4 linked regions of the Homo sapiens genome follow. The protein of the gene in region 4 purifies or fractionates together with the protein of the main gene of each other region. This does not show direct contact. Each region holds a gene or a part of one and is shown on either strand. Other genes may lie near its edges. The genes, in order: GALNT7, TM9SF3, CLTRN and SLC6A19.

Region 1 (5,800 bases), on a different chromosome or scaffold from region 4:
GCAGCCTTTGCTCATTGGCCCCCTAGCCTGCAAGACATCCACTCTTCACTCCAGCTCCTGGCGCCTCCATGCCTCTTACTCCAACTCCCTTCCTTAACTAATTTCAATTTATCTTACTGCTCTCAACTTAGAGATCACCAATACTGAAAAGCCCTTCTTACTATTCCCCACTTCATCAAAAAGATGCAGTTCTATGTTCTTTCCAGGGGTTCTCACAACACCCAAAATCACCTATCTCCCAACCAGTCTGAGTGCTTCAGGACCTTGATCACTTGTGTCCAGGTGGACTGATGCAGGGACCCATATACAGTAGATACTCCAACAATGCTTTTCAAATGAATTAAAAATAATTAAAATCAGACAAAAGCACTTTGACAATCAGACATTGTCATTTCTTTGTTTATTCAAACTTGTCTTCAGACTCACTTCTGATTGCTCCCTGCAGCCCCGCTGTATGCCTCACAGGTACACTAAACCTGCCATGAACGTTCAAGTCTACATCCCTCTGCTTAATTATGTTCAGCAAATATTGGTTGAGGGCCTACTATGTGCCAGTCACTCTTCTAGACAGAAAACCAGAGAAGCAAAGTCGTTTTTCTCAGGGAACTGGCATGCTACCTGGGGAGAGAGACCAAAAAAGTCTGAGAAAACAAAAATGATAATGACAGATGGTGATAAATGATAATGACACATAATACTGTCAAGAGGACTTAAGGGCAGGGTAAGGAAAGCCTCTCTGAGGAGGTGACATTCGCTCTCAGATCTGAATGATAAAGAGTCAGCCAATCAGAGAGTGGAGATGAAGGGAAGCTGACCAACTGCGGAAGCATAGTTCATCTGGGAGTGGATTCCTTATGGGTTGGTGTGTGAAGGGATAAGGGCCAGAATGACATCGAGGTTGTTTTGAGTAGCTGATTAGGTGGCTGCTGAGATTGGGAAGATAGTAGGGGAGTGAATGGAGGGGGCAAGGCTTCTGTTGGTGTTCTGGGCATGTGAAGTACCTGCTAGGCGTCCAGGTAGAGCCATTAAGGCCTACTGATCATAGATTGTAGGTTGTATGATGCCAAAGTCCAGAAGAGAGGCCACTCTGGAGATGTGCATTTGGGGCCATCAGCAGGTAGGTCGTTTCATGGGACTGAATGAGGTCCCCGAGGGAGAAAACACAGATAGAGAAGAGAAGACTAGACCCATCCGTCAGAAACGCCAGCATTTAGAGTTCAGGAATAGAAGGAAAAACCAACAGAGGACACTCATGCTGCTCTCTCTGTACTTCTTGCTTTAATATACTTTTTCCCTATACTCTTATTTTACCTGTCCTATTACAGCAAATTATGTTTAACTCCAACTAGACCATAAGCCTTTCAACACACAGATCTCTCTCTGAGGGCCCAGACAAGTATATCCAACTGTATGCTTAACATCAGGACTTGAATGTGTAACAGGCATTTCAAACTCGACATAGCCTAAATTGAACTTCCTATCTCCTCCCCCCAACCCATCTTTGCTGATTTCTTGGTCAAAAACTTTGGAGTCTTCCATGAATCCTGTCTTTGTCTCGCACTTCATATCTAGTTCCAGAATCTGATCCCTTGTTGCCTGGTCTAAGCCACCATCATCTCTCACTGAGACTAACTTGTTGACTCTCCTACAGCCTATTTCAAATACAGCAGTCAGAGTGACTGTTTTAAAATAAAGGCAAATCATGTCCTTCTTCTGCTAGAAACCCTGCACCTTCACCTATGAGTGAAGACAAAGTCCTTTCTGGTAGTCTCCAAGATCCACAACATCTGTCCCCATTCCTCTCTGGCCTCACCTGCTACTGCTCTCCCCACTCCACTCCAGCCCCATGTCCTTACTGGTCCTCAGACTCCCTCCAGGCATGTGCCTGCCTGTGCTGTTCCCTCTGCCAGGAATGCTTCCTTGCAGATACACGCATGCATGGCCAGCTCTCACACCTCCTTCAAGTCTGCTGACCTACCACTTCTCAGTGAGGTCCACCTTGTTACTTCCCAACGCCCTAGCTCCCACCCTAACTTCCTCTTCTTTTCCTTTTTTTCACCACACTTATCACCTTTTGCCATAACAGACAAATTGTCTACTATGTTTTTTAACTTATATTCTGTCTTTTTTCCCTTACATTCCCAGAGTGAATGGAGGCAGGGGCCCACATTCACTGTGGCATGCCCATTACTGGGGTAGGTGTCTTTATTTTGTTCACTAGTGTTTCAGAGCCTACAACATGCCTGGCACACATCAGGTACTTAATATTTGATGATTGAATAAATACATGAATGAATAAATGGAATTTTCTGTCCTCCTTTTACTGTCTCACTCCCAAGTATATCTTCAGTTTAACCTCTTCCCATTCTGACATCTGCACTTTATACTTCATTTCTCGGCATTTCCTTAACATTCCAGGGTAAACCCCTACCTGTTTTAAAGGTGTCTCTTGGGGCAGTCTTTGGAGCTCCTCCAGGCAGGGTGAGCAGCTCTTCCTCTGTACATTCACACCTCTGTCCTGACTGGTCCACTACCCCTCTGTCTCTCTACAGGCGGTGAGGACCATGACTTGCACCTCTTCATATCCTCAAAACCTGTTATCATTATAGGTGCACAGTCCATATTTGCTGACTGAATGCAAGAATAAAACATTTTATCCAAATAGTATAGCGATTTATAATTCAGAGAAATAAATGGCTTTTCCAAAAATAGTTCTTTTCATACAAAATGTACATTCCAAAGATGGAAACCTGTGTTTGCTTTTCATCTACGTTTATAGAGAAAAGCCTCACTGCCTGGTCATGTGCCATGCATGGCCTATGCACCCTAGACCCCTACAGGCAGCTACCAAAAGTGCTGCATAGCCATTTGGGAGAGGTCCCTTACAAATCCAGTCTGTTCTAGATATCTAGGGCCAGGCCAGTGTTTATTACCACTGTGGTTAGGTTCTCTATTTGCTTCTCATTCACATGAATTACTGTGATTCTGAAATTGCAATTAATGGTAACTTTTTTTTTCTCTGTGGTATTTTACGGAAATGTATAGTCCTTTGCTCTTAGAGAAAGAACCCATTCCAGTGTTGACTTCAAGACCATAAGTTATTTCAAAACTATGTAAAGATTGACAATCCAGTAATAACCTGTCACTACACATACCCAGATTTTCCCTGTAAACTGTAATATTTAACATGAAATGTTAAATTCTGATGCCAGAGTTCATCAAAAACTAAACTGTTGCCTGCTTTTTGCGTCTTTATTCATTTTTTTAGATCAGAGGCTTCGAAACTGCTTACTGCATTGATAGCATGGGAAAAACAAATGGAGGCTTTGTTGAACTAGGACCCTGCCACAGGATGGGAGGGAATCAGGTAAACCACCTTACTTTTGTGTTTAAGTTGTTCCGTATTGAGGGCCATCAGGTTTATTGATCACAGAGTGATCTTTGTACTTTGGTTTTCGATTTGGTAATTTTGTTTGTTTTGATAAAGTAAAACATTCTGTAAAAAAATTGACAGTGTTAAAACATTCACTTAAATGATGGGAATAATAGCAGTATTGGTTTTCACATAAGCAGTCAGAATCTAGAATTAATGTCTAATATAAGGGATTAAAATATATTCCTGTGGGAGTATATATTTGTCACTACCGTAACTATGTAAGCCTAGCTCCCTAACAATTTTTTGCAAGTATTGCTCACTAATCCTCATCTTTTTGCAAATAGAGTGTTACTGCCAGTAATGTATATTTCACTAATATATATTCTCTTACTTATGTGGGTATGTTTTTGCTTTTTCATTTTTTCACATTGTTGGTACTTAATAAATTTGTGTTAGTGACCCATTTGGTATCTTAGAGACTAAAGAACTTAATGATTTCAGTGTTAATAAGGATCTTCACTAACATCAAAATAAATATAATTTGTCTGTGGACTTACAGTTCTAAACAAAATTATGGAAAAATAAGTTAGTCATTCAATTTAATTATAGGAGTTAAGTTTCTTTCTTTTCAAATGCACATCAGCAGGGAAGGTGCCTCTGTTACTTAATTCTCTCTTTTCCTTTTACAGCTTTTCAGAATCAATGAAGCAAATCAACTCATGCAGTATGACCAGTGTTTGACAAAGGGAGCTGATGGATCAAAAGTTATGATTACACACTGTAATCTAAATGAATTTAAGGAATGGCAGTACTTCAAGGTATTCTGCATTTTAACTTCTGAAATATTATATGCTTTTCATTTTCAGTAACATCTAGCATGTGGAATTTAGATAAATAAATCTTAAAACCTGCATTCAAATTCACTTGCATTTTCCTCTCATTTAGTCCCTTGCATAGGTTTTCCTGAGCACTGGATGACTCATTGTTCTATAATGAGGCATCACTTTTGTTCTCTCTTACAATATTGTCATGTAATGAGGCCACGATGATGTCTATAAAGAGCACTGCTAATTTTAGTAATACAAGAAAGTCAGTGTTCTGTGAGGCAGTCATCACCATTGCTCTCATCAAAATCTGATTTTTGAAATGTAAATGAATCATTCATTAAAGTAAAATATATTTAAATATATTTATACTATTAAAAATTTGGTTAATATTTGATATTGTCCAGCAGGTGGAGATAGAGACAAACAAATAAAACTTGAAATCTAGGCTTTCATAACGTCTTTATCATTGTTGTGTGCTAAATACAGTGGGATAAATGTAGCTAGTTGCTTACTTTAATGGTCAAATTTAGTTATTCACGTGACACTGCTGGGGTAGCTTTGTGTTTCAGCTGTGAGTATTTAAAGCTCTGTGGCAAGTTGAGGATTACAACATATTAATAGATTTATGTATAGTTTTCAAATTCTAGATTTGGCTAACATAAATCAATTTATTATTAAACAAAAAGTGGGGAAAGCTGCCTCACACTAAAAAAATCTGTCAACCCTCCATTTTATTTACTCACCCAGTATTTGTTATCATATCCCATCTGTCATGCAAGCAAGGACTTGTTTGCTATGTAATAATGATATGACCTAGCTTAACATTCCCTGTTACTGTCATTTACAGATAATTTCCAGGAAGTGATAAGCACGTATCAATTGATGATTTTGTTTCTTATAACAAGTTAGGAAGGAGAAGAATAGCATAAACCTTAAAGAGTGGAGCATTTATTTTCACAAAAAAAAAGGATATATAATAGCAATAAATAGTAGGGGTCAGTGAGAACAATATTAGCAAAATAGTAAAAGAGGGCTAACACACCAGAAACTACATCAAGAAGTAATTGAACAAAAAATGACACATAACATGTTTTAGGTATTTTAAAGACGCAGCACTGAATATACATTTGTGTGTTAGATATTACTGAACATTCACTTGGGGACCAATAATATGTTAGACTGTAGGGGAGTTCAAAAATATAGCTAAAGCACGCTATTATATAATGGCAGAGAAGAAAGAAATGCAAAAATAGAGATAAGCAAAATGCCATAGGACAGAAAAGAGTGATTCATGGGAGGAATTACTGCTGAGGAGTTTCATAGAGGAAGTGTCATTGCACAAGTCCTGAAGTGTAAAAAGGCTTTCCATGGAAAGTAAATAAGAAAGCCTGGATGAGCAAAGATGTGGCATGAAAACATGTAGAAAATTCAAAGAATTGTATTTCATTTGGTATCCCTCAATTGTGCTTTGGAGGAAAGAGCACCGAACTTCATTTTTTAAGTTTTGGAGAGGGATAGACCTTATTTGAGGAAGGTAGTGATGGAAAACAATGGCTACTTTTAGGAAAATAATTCTGGAAACGTGAGGTATGGACTG
Region 2 (5,800 bases), on a different chromosome or scaffold from region 4:
CTCCTCAAAGTACTAAATAATAACATCTTTAGTACTAAAAATACCAGAAGTCAGTTACTATTCATCTTACACATGGAGACAATGAAGTCAAAACTGCAGTAAACAATTTTACTAAAATGAATACAGTACCAAAAAAAAAAAAAAGGAGGATTAAAATCCAAAGCTCCTGTTTACAGGATCCATGATGTATTCAAAAACCAAGACACCTAATCAAAGATCCTGCAAAAATTCAATTACTCAAGCTTCTGTTCACCATGCTAAAAATGCCTGTGCAGGAAATACACTCTCTGACAAACTTCACAGAGAAAAATGAAAAGTATAAACACACTCAAAGGACCTGATAAATGGATACCTGCATAATAACTAGATACGATGAAGTATTTTCCCCAAATTTAACAAGTCTTTGACTTAAAATTTAAATATCCTATAGGTATTAACAGGATAAATTAATACAACACTGATAAATAATACATGTTAAGCCTATGGTACAAGTTTGAATTTGAGGCGTCACACAAGAATTTTAAGTATCCACGCATCCCATTACAGCCTCAGACCTCCAGAAATTACTTTGTTAAATATCCATGAAGGTCTTCCCGGGCCACATGTGTCTAATCAATAGGGGGTTTACTAGACAACACTTTTCAGAAGGAAATATGTTAAGGAAATACAATTTTATTAACAATTATCTATTTTATTATCTTATAAATATTCAAAGGAAATCTTTGTTAATTACTAATATACTTTCCTAAATGCAATACACCTCATTTACAGACTAAAACACATTTTAGAGTCTAAAGTAGTGGTTCTCAACTGACAGCAATTAGCAATGTCTGGTGACTTTTTTGGTTTTCACAACTGGAAGGTGCTACTGGCATCTGGGGGGTACAGGCCAGGGACTCTGCTAGACATCCTAACATGTACATAACAGCTCCATACAACAAAGAATTATCCAACACCAGTGTCAATAGTGCCAAAATATGAAACCCTTGTCTACAATCCAAATTGCATTGTAAGGACTATTAAGGTTTACTTACCTTTAAATTTAATATCCAGACCACTAAATTCCAATTCAACCCCTTGAAGTGCTTCTCCCAGAGTTTCATGGTAATGACTGATACTTTTTTTTGACCCCACACAGAATGGAAGTGAAAAGTACTTATATGTTTCTTGACGATTATGGTAGGGCCCAACAGTATTCATCCATAAGACAACTTCCTCTTTATCTTGATACTGAAACAAGAAAAGCAAACAAGAATTAAAAAAAAAAAACACACTAATTCAAATTAAGGGAATATTTGTTGTGTGTTCTAAACAAAAGTGCATCATCTCTGTTCAGGAAGCTATAAAATAAATACTGGAAGCTTAATCTGATGATGAATGTCCACATCTTAAAAATGAAACTTTGTGAATTTTAAAATTATATCCTCTGATTGTAGTCTCAGGCAGATACACCTTTTCCAAACTTGTTTTATAGAAGACAGTGTTTGAACTAAGCCCAATAGCTCATAAGAGTGTGTCTATTATTTACATTTACACTATCAAATAGTGGCAAACCTGCAACCAGCATGATTCACCATGCTAACATGGACAAGGAAGGAGGAAACAAAATCAAGTTTATCCAGAACCTCATGTTAATCAATTAAAAAAAAAAAAAAACCTAATGTTGCCAGCAAGCATAAATAAAATTTCATCTCCTTGCGAGACTTTCACACAGCCACTGGTCAAAGTACTACAGAGGACAAGGAAGAAGACTGCTATAGAACCTCCACAAGTCCATTCAAGCCAACATTCTATCTTGTTAGCAGCCTGAAAGACATGCACTATATGCATATTTCTTTGAATAAGTAATTATGGAACTACATATCAGTGAATATTATACATGGCTAAATCTGAAGTGTGGTCAGTAATGACTTTGAGTAGTTCCAAGGTACAAGTGGGAGGCCTGTCAAAGATTTCTAAGATCTCGACAAGTTTAAAGTTCCAATGATTCTATGGAAACTGATTACCATGGTAATTTTAAAACTAATAATTCTAAGTAGCAGTATAAATTAAAGACAACATTGGATGCATTTAAATCAACTAATAGTGCAGACATTAATTCACTGAACAATTATTTACTAAGTGCTTAGCATGTGAAACAACTGTGTTTATAACTGAGGATACAGCTTTGAACAAGATGTGTTCCCTGTCCTACTGGGGGAAGGATGGGCATTAAACAAGCAATAATAATAAGGTAGGTTGCTATGGGGCACATAATAGAAGAAGTGATCCAACTGGCCCACTATGAAATCCTTATCTCCAGTCCTCCATCTAAAACTAGTTAATAAATAAATATTTTCAATCAAAACCTAACATCTCCAAAACCAAACTCATCTACCCAAATCCACTTCCCCCAGCTTCATTTTTCTAATGGTACTACCATTCTCTCAGCCATGGAGACTCAAACCCCAAATCTCTCTGCACTCTAGGGAACCCAAAAACATTAACTTGTATGTTCTTACCAAAAACATCTGCCTTTTTCTTTTGATTCACACGATTATCACCCTAAGACTTAGACCCAGTCATTTCATTTTCAAACATAAATGCCTCACTGTTCATATAAGACAACAGCCAGGTCATTAAGGAAATAACAAATGATCTCACCTTTTGAACACATGTGACAGGTACCAAGTATCGCGTTAGGTATTAAGAATATAAAAGTAAGTAAAATACTGTCGTTTCCTTAAGAAGTTCATAATCCACAGTGGAATCAGACAAGTAAATGATTAACAAAGAAAAAATAAGTATTATAATTAAGGTAATAAAGGGCTATTGTAGCAACAATAAAGGAATGATTAAATTCACTTTGGCAGAGAAGGTCAGGACGAATAACAATTTGGAAAATCATAAGCTGTTTCAAGGGAGTTCAGAAAAACAACTGTAGATAATCTTCACATAGGAAGTAATGAATCAAAGGTCTAAATGTTAATGTAGCAGTATATCCCCATTCATTACTATTCTTTTTATTTGGGGAGACTGACAAATATATGTATGCCCCCACTCTTCCATCCAATGCTCATGGGCCACACAATACTAATCAACCAAGTTACTCCTTTCTGCTGAACATAGATATTGCCTCAGAGTTCTCAAAACAGTGCTCTAAACCAATCATTACCAACTGATGAGAGTTGGTATTAGAATTAAAACTTGTTCATGGCCGGGTACGGTGACTCACACCTGTAATCCCAAGACCTTGGGACGCCAAAGCAGGCGGATCACTTAAGGTTAGGAGTTTGAAATCAGCCTGGCCAACATGGTGAAACCCTGTCTCTACTTAAAATACAAATATTAGCAGGGTGTCGTGGCACACACCTTGTAATCCCAGCTACTTGGGAGGCTGAGGCAAGAGAATCACTTGAACCTGGGAGGTGGAGGTTGCAGTGAGCCTGAGATTGCGCCACTGCACTCCAGTCTGGGTAACAGGGCGAGACTCAGTCTCACAAGAAGAACCTATTCACCAAGGCAAATAGATATTTAATAAATATGATGGGAAAACACTGAAGAAATGCTGAAATGTAAAGTTCATTGGCAACTTGGTAAAAGAAGTTTGAAGTATGTGAAATGACTGCTATGTACCCTGACTGTAAGAGTACCTTTTCAGAAAAATAAGGGGAGGTAACATAATTCATCTATTTAAGAGCAGAATGTTGAATGAGACGACCTATTAAAGAGCACCTTGCCATTAACCCTGCTGAGTCTGCAGAAATGTTATAAATGTAACTTGTGAAAATAAGCACAAAAATACTTTTTCTATAAATTCCAATACTTTTCCTTTAAAAATAGACAACATTTTTGAAAATAAATACCTTTAAAAATAGGGCATCCATTTATTTTATACAAATTAAAACATAAGGACTAAAATAATTTAAGGGTCCCAGTCGATGTTAAACCACATATTCCGAAGTTACTCATTTTAAACATTCAGGAATCCTTAACAGAGTGGTAGAGTTGTGATGTGATGCCCGTACTGTAATAAAATTTATATCATTTTGTAGTCTAAGATTCTTTCTGGGAAGAGGACTGAAACAGTAATTAGAAATACACATACTGAGAGTTTAGGGTGAATAGCAAGGCAAAAATAATGCTTTTTTCTTTTGTTTTGCTCCTTACTATGCAGACTGTGGTTTAATACAATTAACTTAAAATGTTTACTTTTCATTGCAGACCTTGATTGTCCCTGAGAATAAGTGCTTCCAAGACAAGATCAAGAGTTCTCTCTCAAAAGAAAATGTTTTAAAATATTTTGAAATTAAAAAATACCAAAAGACTTCACACAACTTCTGAAGGAGAAAACAAAACAAACAAAAATCTTTCCTTTCCCTAAAGCTTTGATAAAGCCCCTGAGCTCCACAGTCTGTGGGAAGAGAGTGCTAGGCCCAGAAGAAGGTGGGGTGGAGTCACAGAAGCACAGCAGTGTATCAGGGGATCCCTAAGCACGATAATAATCCCTTTCATCTGAGGCTTCCCTGGGAAACGGCCAAGTGAGAGGAGGCCAATTCAGGCTACCGGCATTCTTCACCTACTTATTTTCCAGCTCTCAGAAGAATCTCACTGCTACACTTACGTCATCCACGCTGGCCAAAACGGTTTATGATATTGTCTTCCTCCCCTTTTCTGCTTCATCTTTGTGTGTGTGTGTGTGTGTGAGACGGAGTCTTGCTCTGTCGCCCAGGCTGCAGTGCAGTGGTGCAATCTCGGCTCACTGAAAGCTCCGCCTCCCAGGTTCACGCCATTCTCCCGCCTCAGCCTCCTGAGTAACTAGGACTACAGGCGCCCACCACCACACCCGGCTAATTTTTTGTATTTTTTAGTAGAGACGGGGTTTCACCATGTTAGCCAGGACGGTCTCGATCTCCTGACCTCGTGATCCACCCGCCTCGGCCTCCCAAAGTGCTGGGATTACAGGCGTGAGCCACTGCGCCTGGCCCCACTTCATCTTCTTTCGTCATTCCACCAAATTTAGAATGCCCTCCTTTTCTCCACTTAGCCAAACTCTAATAATCCTTCCGAAATGCTCAAATCCTCCTTTTTCAAATCCTCAAGTAAAGCCTTAACTCACCAAACCCTAACATGACATGATCTCACCATTTTTGTAATAATAACATCAGTAGCTAACAATAAATACATACTATGAGCTAGGTATAGTTCTAAGGTCTTTATATGAACACTTAAATAATCATCTCAAAATTCTATAAAATAGGTCCTATTACTTCCCCATTTTACAGACTAAAAACAAAAACAAAACTAAAGAACAGAGATGTTAAGTAATTTGTCCAAATCAATCAGCATCAAGTTTAAAAGGTTAGTATTTTTGCTAATCCCTAGTCAGCTTCATTCATTAAAGAGCAAAAAACTAAATCAAGGAAATATGAAAACAGTGCCAGGTGTACAAAGCAACTAAAGACAGTCCTGAACACTGAATAACTTTTCTATGTGAGCCTTTAATCTGCCTGAAAGAAAAAAAACCTTCTAAGAAGCTATTTGCACTCTAATCTCAAAAGGAATGACCTTTATTCTCAAGAAGTCACCAATGTTGGGCCCCTCTTATTTAAATACTGTTTATGTGTTGGGGGGGTACCAAAGTTTTCCTCCTTGACAGAGGTAATGAATTAATTATTATCAGGAGAAACGCTTTAGAAGATAATATGCTGACGTGGTCATGTGAAATCTGAATAAGAAATCACAATTTACATAGATGAGCAAAGGACTGAGGGTTCAGAACAAGCACCCAAATGCTATCCTTCATTTTCATACAAAGGGG
Region 3 (5,800 bases), on a different chromosome or scaffold from region 4:
AGTTGACTAAAAAGTTTGCTGAGGGCAATCATGCCATAGTTTCTCTTAAGTTACAACACTAGCTGCCAGAGGGATACCCATGTATCCACTGCTGCCCCCATTGTTGTGAATGTCCAGAAGTCCTGAGCTTTGAGCTCTGTCCACCATGTTTTATTTCCTGAGAGGTAGTAAGGTAGACGGAGGGACTCGTCTCTGGAGGCAGGGCTCTAACCCTGGACCAAACTGAGGACTAACTAAAACAGAGCTAGGGGGTGGCGGGGAAGCAGCTTTCCATCAGACATGCCCACCAGTGTGCCATGTCAGTTTACCATTGCCATGGCAACACCTGGGAGTTACCACCCCTTTCCATAGCAATGATGTGATGACCCCAAAGTTATTACCCTTCCCTAGAAATTTCTGCATAAACTGCTCCTTAATCTACATGTAATTAAAAGTGGGTATAAATATGACTGCAAAACTGCCCTGAGCTGCTAGTCTCTGCCTACAGGGTAGTCCTGCTCTGCAGGAGCAGTCACAGAGCAGTAACATCACAGGAGCTATAATACTGCCTCTTCAGTAAAGTTGTTTTCTTCTACTTCTGGCTCTCTCTTGAATTTTTTTCCTGGGCAAAGCCCAGAATCCTCATGGGCTAAGCCTCAATTTGGGTTTCACCTGTCCTGTGTGAGTAGCATCTAGATTAGAATGACAAAGCTCTATTTAAGGTGGCTTACATAAATATCACAGCCCCCAAAAGTAAAATTACATGTAAAATATGGGTGATGAATAGGAGAAGTAAAGAAAACCAGAAGCAAAAATGAAAACATGAACCAGGAGTGGCTTCAAATTCACCAACTTGATCTTGATATTTTTTTCATTAATTCAACAAACATTTGCCAAAAACTTATTAAATATCAAATACTGTGCTAGATGCTGGAGATACAACGTGAAATTAAAGTACCAAGGAGCTTACGGTCTAGAAGGGTGACAGATCAGTAGATCCACAACCACAGTGTGGTACAAAATGTTCTGTGAAAGAGGCAAATATGGGCACAGTGTGAGCAGAGGGAAGGGCCAAGTACACCATTGTGAGAAGTCAGAGCTGCTTTGCTGTGGAGGCCATTTTTGAGCTCTGTTTTGAGGGACAAGTAGGAGTTTTTAGACCAAAGTATGTGGTGAGCACAGGAATGGAAACAAGGTAAAGTAAGACTTGTTCAGCAAATTGCAAGTAGTTCCATAGGACTAAAGACATTAATGATTTAGGAGTTCAAAAGCTTAGAAAAATGTTACTTTTCCTAGGAAATATCTGCATTTTTAGTGGTGGTGGCAGTTAAGGAGAGGTTGGTAGCAAAGACTTATTTAATTGAAACCAAATAAGTGAATTTCTAACTGTAAACTGGAGAGTCCTTGGAGATATTTTATGACCTTTACTGAATTCATATTATGCAAGCTGCCTTTGTCTACCTCTAGAGCAGCCCTGGAAAACAGAAATATAATGTGAGCTTCGTGTGACTTAAAATTTTCTAGTAGCTGCACTAAAATAAACAGATGAAACTAATTTTAATAATGTATTTTTTGTCCAATATATCCAAGAAAATGTAATTTCAACATGTAAACAGTATCAAGTTGACTTTGCATGTTTGTTTGTTTGTTTGTTTTTTGAGACAGGAACGATCATGGTTCATTGCAGCCTCAAACTCCTGGGCTCAAGCAATCCTCCTGCATCAACCTCCCAAGTAGCTAGGACCACAGGTGTGTGCCACCACACCTGGCTGTGTGTGTGTGTGTGTGTGTGTGTGTGTGTGTGTGTGTGTAAACAGGGTCTTGCTATATTGCCCAGGCTGGGGCTCCACATTTTATTTTGTACAATGTCTTTGAAATTTGGCTTATGTTTTACACTGTGAGCACACCTGACTTTGAACTAGCCACATTTCAGGTGCTTAATAACCACATTTGGCTGGTGGCTACGGTACCGGACAGTCCAAGTCTACAGCCTGATAGTATGGCTTGAGAATCTCTGCAGGCCAGCACCAGGCTATCAGGAAAGACCCCCTTTAGTAAATAAATAACTATGCTGTGGCATGATTATTCATGGATGTGAAAGTGAACTCTAGCCAGATAATCTACAACAAGGGATTTTTATCCAACAATGGAATATTTTATTTTGTCATAACCTAATATTGAACATCTGAGAGCACAAACTTTTCCACAAAATAATGAAACCCACTGCTAAGATATAACTCAGAGAAAAATGAGAAGTTGCTCTGCATTCTCATTCTATCTTCCTAGTTGGTTAACCCTTTGTTACTTGCTCACTCTAGGCTTGGAATGTATTCTATCATCTCACAGACTGACTGGAAGTTCTAGCTCAGGTACATATTAAATCTGCTCCACCACTGGAATCACCAATTGGCATCAAGCATCATGTATGTCTTTCAGCCAAGAGTGGTATTGAATTAGGCCACGCCCTCACAAAAGAACTAAAACAGACATCTTGGAATTAGTTGGTCACTCCTTTACCTCATACTATGTATACTCTGTATTGGTAAAAAGTCCAGTACTCTTTTTTGCCCATTTCAATTATTTTACTTGAAATGAGAATTTTGTAATTCTCATTCTGTTGGCTATCCCCACTTCCTAAATAGTTTATCCTGCTAGGACCTTTGAAATAGACATTTTGTGAACAAATTCACGTGCTTCCTGGACCTTCACCCTAAGCACTTTGTGTAAAGGAATGACCAACCAATTCTAAGATGTCTGTTTCAGTTCTTTGTGTACTCTGGTAAACAGGAAAAATCACTGGATATGGTGGCAGGATGCCTAGGTTCAAGTCCTCACTTTCTCTTTCTAGCATGGTGGCCTTAACAAATCAATTAATCTCCCTGAGCCTCAGTTTCTTCATTTATAAAGGAGAGATAATAGTAATTACTGAAAAATTATTGGTGTTGGCTGGGTGCAATGGCTCATGCCTGTAATCCCAGCACTTTGGGAGTCTGAGGCAGGAGGATCGCCTGAGGCCAGTTCAAGGGCAGCCTGGGCAACATAGTAAGACCCTGTCTCTACAAAAAAAAAAAAAAATTTAAATTAGCCAGGCATAGTGGCACATCCCTGTAGTCCCAGCTACTCAGGAGGCTGAGACAAGAGGATCACTTGAACCCCAGGAGTTCAAGGCTGCAATGAGCTATTATCATGCTACTGTACTATAGCCTGGGCAACAAAGCCAGACTCTGCCTCTTAAAAAGAAAACAAAAAAAAACTGTTGGTGTCATTATTAAATGCCACAGATGCATAAGAACATTCCTTGTGAACCAAAAAGTGGTATGCAAATATTAGGTGGAACTAGTATTATTTTGCCCAATCACTTAGATTCTTCAGCCTTGAAATTCCTATTATTTGCTCTCTAAACACCATCTCCTTTTTTTCACTCTATCCTTCCTTTGTTGTATAGTTTCCTTTATTTTCATCCAATCCTGATGTGCCCTACTAATTCCCTGACATAAATTCTCATTCTATTGGCTATCCCCACTTCCTAAATAGATTCTCCTGCTAGGACCCTTGAAAAAGACATTTTGTTGTGAACATATTCATGTATTAATACTTCCCAGACCTTCACCCTAAGCACTCACTCTTCCTCCTCCTATCAACTGAAGGACTGGTTTAACCCAGTGCCTTCATTTTCCCTGTAGCCCTCACAGATCACAAGACATGAATAAAATCTTTTTTCACATGAAATATGATATTTATAATTCTTACTCCCTAAGTGGTGAGAGTCTTAACAGTATTCTTAGTGGCCACAGTGAAGAAGCAATTTAGTTCAAACTTTCTTGTTAGGGCAGATTCAACCATTTCCAATCAGTATAAATCCTCAGTGCCTTTGCTTCAGCAAAAGAAATAGATGATGTTCACAAAAACCTTTGACATTTGATTATATACTCATTATCTTAAGTGTTAACATTTTACAGAGAGCTAATGAGTTATTCCAGTAGGTATTTATCCTTGGTAAAAAGAATAATATGTATTTCAGTAACTTGTAAATCTTGTGTGGGGAGAGCTACTTTGCTTTGTTCTAGTTTATTTCCTGAGCTCATTTTTTGAGTATATCTTTGCCCAACATCAATCACATGTGGTATTTGAAGTTTTGACACATACCAAAGGCACAGTAATTGAAAGAAATACAAGTTGCATCCTCCTAATTCTTGAAAGTCTCGAATTCGTTTCACTTTTGAGTTTCTTACGATCATAAGGAGGGGAGGAGTACAACTGTCGGGAAGTCGGGAAAAATTGTAAAATACTTGAAATGGGCAAAACAGAGTACTGGACTTTTTCCTGATTGTCCTGCTGAGAGCACCTTTCTAGGCAATTTCCATCTCTTACGGTCTTTGAGCTACTTTGCAAATCCCTAAGTTCTTGAAAACTAACATAATGTAAATGATTCTTGTCCATAGAAAATCAAATGAACTGTGTCTAGTGGAACATAATTGGTTACTGCCCGAAAAATAGACTGATGCATCCTTCTGTAAATGCATTTTGCCATTCCTCACTTTCTATATATGGGTGGTTCCTTGAAGTCTCCTTGAAAAAGAATTTAACATCTTACTAGTGCCCTCATTAACTAATGAGATAAAATTTTTGATAGTAATAATGATTAGTTTGCATGAGAGTCATGATTTTACCTTTTTTTAAAAAAAATTATCTTTTTAAAGTAAAGACTATATATTGACTGAAAAAGGTAAGCTATTGGGTCCCTAACTTCTGCTTACTCAATGCTGGTGGTACCACCACCCCCTCCAGCTGTGACAATAAAAATGTCTCCAGACATTGCGAAATGTCTCCAGATATTGCCAAATGTCTCCTTGAAGGTAAAATTGCCCCTGGATGAGAACTACTGATCTATACTCATCTCTAACAGAAACTAACAAAATGAAATCTTTGTCATTTTAATAAATAATTCATGTATGAAACAGATAAAACTCTTCAATATCTATTTTTAAAAACAGTTGAATTAATCAGCAAGTTGATTGACTAATAGAAGGCATATTTAAGGGTGATTACCTTATGGCTGATTGCACCTCAACAGCAGGAAGGGTGTGATTTTTTGAAGGGTCTGTAACCACAAACCAGAATGATACCCTCTGGGTTACATTGCAAAGTAGGACATGGGAAATTCTGCAGACAGTGGAAAGAAAAAATACATGAGAAGAATATCATACCAAATGGCATTAAACCGTTCACTCTGATGCTACTACTATCTTAAGAGACATCTTAGCTATGTTTAAAAAGTCATTTCTACCATTATGAAGAATGAGCTCAGTAAGAAGAAAATTATATAGGAAATTCCCATTGTTTCAAAATCATATACTTGGGGATCATTCCTTATAGGGAATAACAGGGAATCTGCCAAAAAATAATAATAGTCAGTGGAGAGCATTAGGGATCTCATTCTCCATCACCGGTTGGTGACAGCCCCCGTTTCCCCAATGCTTGGCCCTCTCTGAACCACAGAAACCTTTGGTATTTTCTCATTCAACTCTTTTTAGTGCCCTGCCCATTCAGTCTTCCACCTCTCAGATCCAGAGAGGATCTGCTGCCCCCTCATGATTCAATACTTGCTCTGTCTGCATCTACTGTCTCTCTTCCACCCCAGCATCAGGGCCAAGACAAAAGGCACCTTCTGTGTGTACTTTTGAAGAAAAAGTTCTCAAAAACAAGTTTCTTTTACATCGCCTTGAACAAACCTCCAACTTAAACACTATAATCAATTCACCAGCAGTCTTTGAACTCTTTGTTTTGCAGTTACAGACTTTTCAACTGCAAATTGGAAATG
Region 4 (4,080 bases):
TCCCAGGAGGGAGGTGGGTGGGCTGGGAGTTGGGAGGTAGGGGAAAGGGGAAGCTGGAGGAGCCCCAGGCCACCCTGCCTGCCCCACAGGACAGGAGGTGAGAGTCATGGGGTGAGGGGCCTTTGCCTCAAAGTGAACCCCACTGGCTCCCGGGATGCCTACTCACCCATGGGGCTCTCTCCCCAGGAGGAATTTCCCAAATCCCAGAAGATCTCCTACCCGAACTGGGTGTATGTGGTGGTGGTGATTGTGGCTGGAGTGCCCTCCCTCACCATCCCTGGCTATGCCATCTACAAGCTCATCAGGAACCACTGCCAGAAGCCAGGGGACCATCAGGGGCTGGTGAGCACACTGTCCACAGCCTCCATGAACGGGGACCTGAAGTACTGAGAAGGCCCATCCCACGGCGTGCCATACACTGGTGTCAGGGAAGGAGGAACCAGCAAGACCTGTGGGGTGGGGGCCGGGCTGCACCTGCATGTGTGTAAGCGTGAGTGTATGCTCGTGTGTGAGTGTGTGTATTGTACACGCATGTGCCATGTGTGCAGATATGTATCGTGTGTGCATGTACATGCATGGGCACTGTGTGAGTGTGCACGTGTATGCACACATATACATGTGTGTGGGTGTGTGTATTGTATGTGCATGTGCCATGTGTGCAGATGTGTCATGTTGTGTGTGTGCATGTACATGTATGGACATTGTGTGAGTGTGCAAGTGTGCATGCATATACATGTGTGCGATATTTGCTGCCCGTGTGTGTGCATGTATATATAGACATACATGCCTATGTTGTGTGTGGTGTGCATATGTGTGAACACACACGTGTATACATGCATGCACATGTGCTCGTACAATGGGTGTCCACATGCACGTGTATATGTATATCTGTGAGTGTATATACATGCATGCAATTGTGTGTATGTGTGTTCTGTGTGTGCGTTTGCAAGTATATATGCACATGTGTATATGTACATGTATGCCTGTGTGACGTGTGTATATGTGAGCATGTGTACGTGTGTGTATACGTGTGTTGTGTATATGTGTGTGTCTGTACCTGTTTGTGTATATGTGTGTGATGTGTGCTCGTGTGTGTGCATATTCAGGCAGGTGTGCATTTGTGCATGCCAGTGTGTATGTATGTGCGCATATGGACACGCATGGACACGCATATGGACACATATGGACACACATATGGACACGTGTGGATATGTGTGCGTACACGTCGCTGGGACACATGCCTGCCACTCGGGGCCCAGCTGCCCTCTGTGTTTGTCCTTGCCACAGTCACGGGGTGCATGTGCAGAGGGGAGCAGACCACTGGGGACGTGCTGTGCCCTGCACGTGCCCGGGGGAAGCGGAAGCTGCAGCTGGGGTGGGGGCAGCACCTCTATGCTTCATCTCTGTGGGTGGCAGGAGACAAAAGCACAGGGTACTATCTTGGCTCCTGGGAGCGACTCTTGCTACCCACCCCCACCCATCCCCTTCCCCTTGGTGTTGACCTTTGACCTGGGGGTTCCCAGAGCCCTGTAGCCCTCGACCCGGAGCAGCCTCTCGGAAGCCGGAGTGGGCAGTTGCTGGCGATTCTGAGAAAACTTGGCCGCATCCACCGGGGCCCTGCCTCCAGTCGGCCGCTGCCGAGTCTCTGCGTTCTGGCCGCTTCCCGGCTTAATGAATGCCAGCCATTTAATCATTGCTCCTGCCACCACAAATAGATGAGCAGTTAAATAAAACTCAACTTGGCATAATTCAAGGCAAATACCACTCTGTGCATTTTCTTAAGAGGACATGAGCTGTGTGAATTTTTAGCCAGCCTTTGGAAAAGATGGGTTACAGGGTAACTCAACCCTGGCTGCCATCCTTGGGCACTGTGTGTGTCCAGGGCACCTTGGAGGACCGTGCAGCCCCCAGAAGCTTCCAGCTCCCGCACCACTCAGTGAAGCCCAGCCTGGCGCCTGCCCTGCCCCCGTCACGGGATGGGCCCCCATTGGGGTTCAACATTCCATCGCAGCCAAAGGCAGTCGGCACTTGGGACATCTGCTTCCACGGACAGGTCACCTCCGCTTTGCACGGAAGAATCTGGATGCTTACATTAAACTGGTGTTCTGAGAGTTCCTACGGACAGGTCACCTCCGCTTTGCATGGAAGAATCTGGATGCTTACATTAAACTGGTGTTCTGAGAGTTCCTACGGACAGGTCACCTCTGCTTTCCATAGAAGAATCTGGACGCTTACATTAAACTGATGTTCTGAGAATTCCTACAGGCAGGACTGAAAGCCTGGTGTGTGCCAGTATGATGTTCCACCCACAGAAACCTGGTCACAATCGTCCCTTCCAGCACCCCATCCAGCAGTGACTGCACACACTGAGTCCCCTACCAGCCCCTTTCACCCTGCTGACTGTCACTGGGCCCTGGGATGCGCAAGACTCCACAGCAGCAGAGGTGGGGGGACATATCACAGCCTCTGCCCCCGGCTGTGATGCCACCGAGGGGCTCGCCTGCTGATGGCTTCAACAGGGTCTCACCTCATCTTTTCCTGCTCTTTGGCCCTGGATCGAGAAAATTTCCATCAGTGCCCCATTAATATGCTGCCCTGTGGCATCTGCCCAGGAGGCCCTGCCAGGCGTGCACAGGTGTGCATTGGTGTACCCTGGCATGCACAGGTGTGCACTGATGTGCCCTGGCATCCATTGGTGTACCCTGGTGTGCCTGCCATAGGACCCTGGGCGGGAGCTCCCATCTCATCTACATCTCCTGATTCATGCGTTGTTTCATAGGTTTCAATGTCTCTGTAAATGTGGTAGAAATGCAGGCTTTATGGGCATAAAGTGTACATTTCTAAATAAATCCCTTCTATTGAGTATGCTCACCCTAGAAGTTACTGTTGTCCAGACGTAGAGGGATGAGTGAGCCAGTGACCTCAGACGGGATGGTGGGGACGGCAGGTCCAGCTCCTGCCTCCTCCTGGGGGGTCTGGCTTTGGGGGCTTGCTCCGAAGAGGCCATGGCCCAGGCCTGTGGCCTCACAATGGGGACCAACCAGCTCTTCTCATCTTCTTCCCTCACACTTCCTCTCACTCAAATAAGAACCTTCCAAAAATGTGTCCACCTGGGCCCCTGCCCTGGGACTCATGGATTTGGAGTTGTGGCCACACGGTTGAGGGGTGCAGTGTCCAGTGGAATGGGGCAATTGCGGGCCTGGGGGCCCTTGGCCTGTCCGTGGCGGGAGCATCTGCAAGGAGGAGCCCCAGAGTCCAGGGAGCACTGTGGGGAGCTCCTTAGAGCTGAACTCACCCGGCGTCAACTCATCAACCCTCCACCCATGGACAGGGGTGCCCCCAGCACAGGAGAGGACTCAGCCCTCTGCCCCCACGCACGGTGGGTGCCTGTCACCCTGTCCTGCCCAGCGGCCCGAGGGCAGCAGTGGGTGTGAGGGCAGCCCCCGGCCTCCCAAGAGCAGCTGAGAGGATCCCTGCGGGAATCCGGGCTTCGGGTGCATGCGATCTGATCTGAGTTGTTTCTGACAGTGACAGAGTGACAATCTATAAGTATCTCAAGATCAAATGGTTAAATAAAACATAAGAAATTTAAAACGATTAAAATATGCCTCAGTCTTGGGAATCCTGGTGTCTGCAACAAAAAAACTTGAGGCTGTCCTTGCAAACGGTCCTCATGGTGCTGGGGGTGGTGCCAGGCCCGGCGTTTGCCTGGAACACAGAGCATGCGAGAAGGAGCAGAGGACGTGGGTGCCAGGGAAGGACCCTGGCGTCAGAGCCAGGGCCTGGACCTGAGTTACCCATTAACGGCACTCCACTGGTTTTCCTTTAAAGAAATGAATAAATACAACTGCAGTGGGGCTGCTTGTGGTTTCCAAACGTCGGCAGAGGCTGGAGACGGCTCTCTAGTGCTGGGTGTGGAGTGAGGCACCACCCTTGCCCTGAAGCCTGGGGCACTCAGTCACCATGGCTCATGCCCCAGAACCGGACCCGGCCGCCTGCGACCTCGGGGATGAGAGGCCCAAGTGGGACAACAAGGCCCAGTACCTCCTGAGCTGCACTGGGTTTGCCGTGGGACTGGGG

What was found.
Region 1: the proteins of SLC6A19 (region 4) and GALNT7 purify together in Homo sapiens (affinity purification with mass spectrometry; one large-scale study listed by BioGRID and IntAct). This does not show direct contact.
Region 2: the proteins of SLC6A19 (region 4) and TM9SF3 purify together in Homo sapiens (affinity purification with mass spectrometry; one large-scale study listed by BioGRID and IntAct). This does not show direct contact.
Region 3: the proteins of SLC6A19 (region 4) and CLTRN purify together in Homo sapiens (affinity purification with mass spectrometry; one large-scale study listed by BioGRID and IntAct). This does not show direct contact.

Annotation. Positions count from the first base shown.
Region 1 is NC_000004.12:173,314,366-173,320,165, forward strand, and holds part of GALNT7 (N-acetylgalactosaminyltransferase 7), read left to right. Parts: intron 1-3,268; coding exon 3,269-3,367; intron 3,368-4,065; coding exon 4,066-4,194; intron 4,195-5,800. UniProt on the Homo sapiens protein: Glycopeptide transferase involved in O-linked oligosaccharide biosynthesis, which catalyzes the transfer of an N-acetyl-D-galactosamine residue to an already glycosylated peptide.
Region 2 is NC_000010.11:96,575,600-96,581,399, forward strand, and holds part of TM9SF3 (transmembrane 9 superfamily member 3 precursor), read right to left. Parts: intron 1,231-5,800; coding exon 1,035-1,230; intron 1-1,034.
Region 3 is NC_000023.11:15,639,888-15,645,687, forward strand, and holds part of CLTRN (collectrin precursor), read right to left. Parts: intron 5,143-5,800; coding exon 5,029-5,142; intron 1-5,028. UniProt on the Homo sapiens protein: Plays an important role in amino acid transport by acting as binding partner of amino acid transporters SLC6A18 and SLC6A19, regulating their trafficking on the cell surface and their amino acid transporter activity.
Region 4 is NC_000005.10:1,221,515-1,225,594, forward strand, and holds the end of SLC6A19 (sodium-dependent neutral amino acid transporter B(0)AT1), read left to right. Parts: intron 1-186; coding exon 187-390; 3' UTR 391-3,597; downstream 3,598-4,080. Other genes in the region: SLC6A18 (inactive sodium-dependent neutral amino acid transporter B(0)AT3), read left to right, coding at 3,964-4,080. UniProt on the Homo sapiens protein: Transporter that mediates resorption of neutral amino acids across the apical membrane of renal and intestinal epithelial cells. This uptake is sodium-dependent and chloride-independent.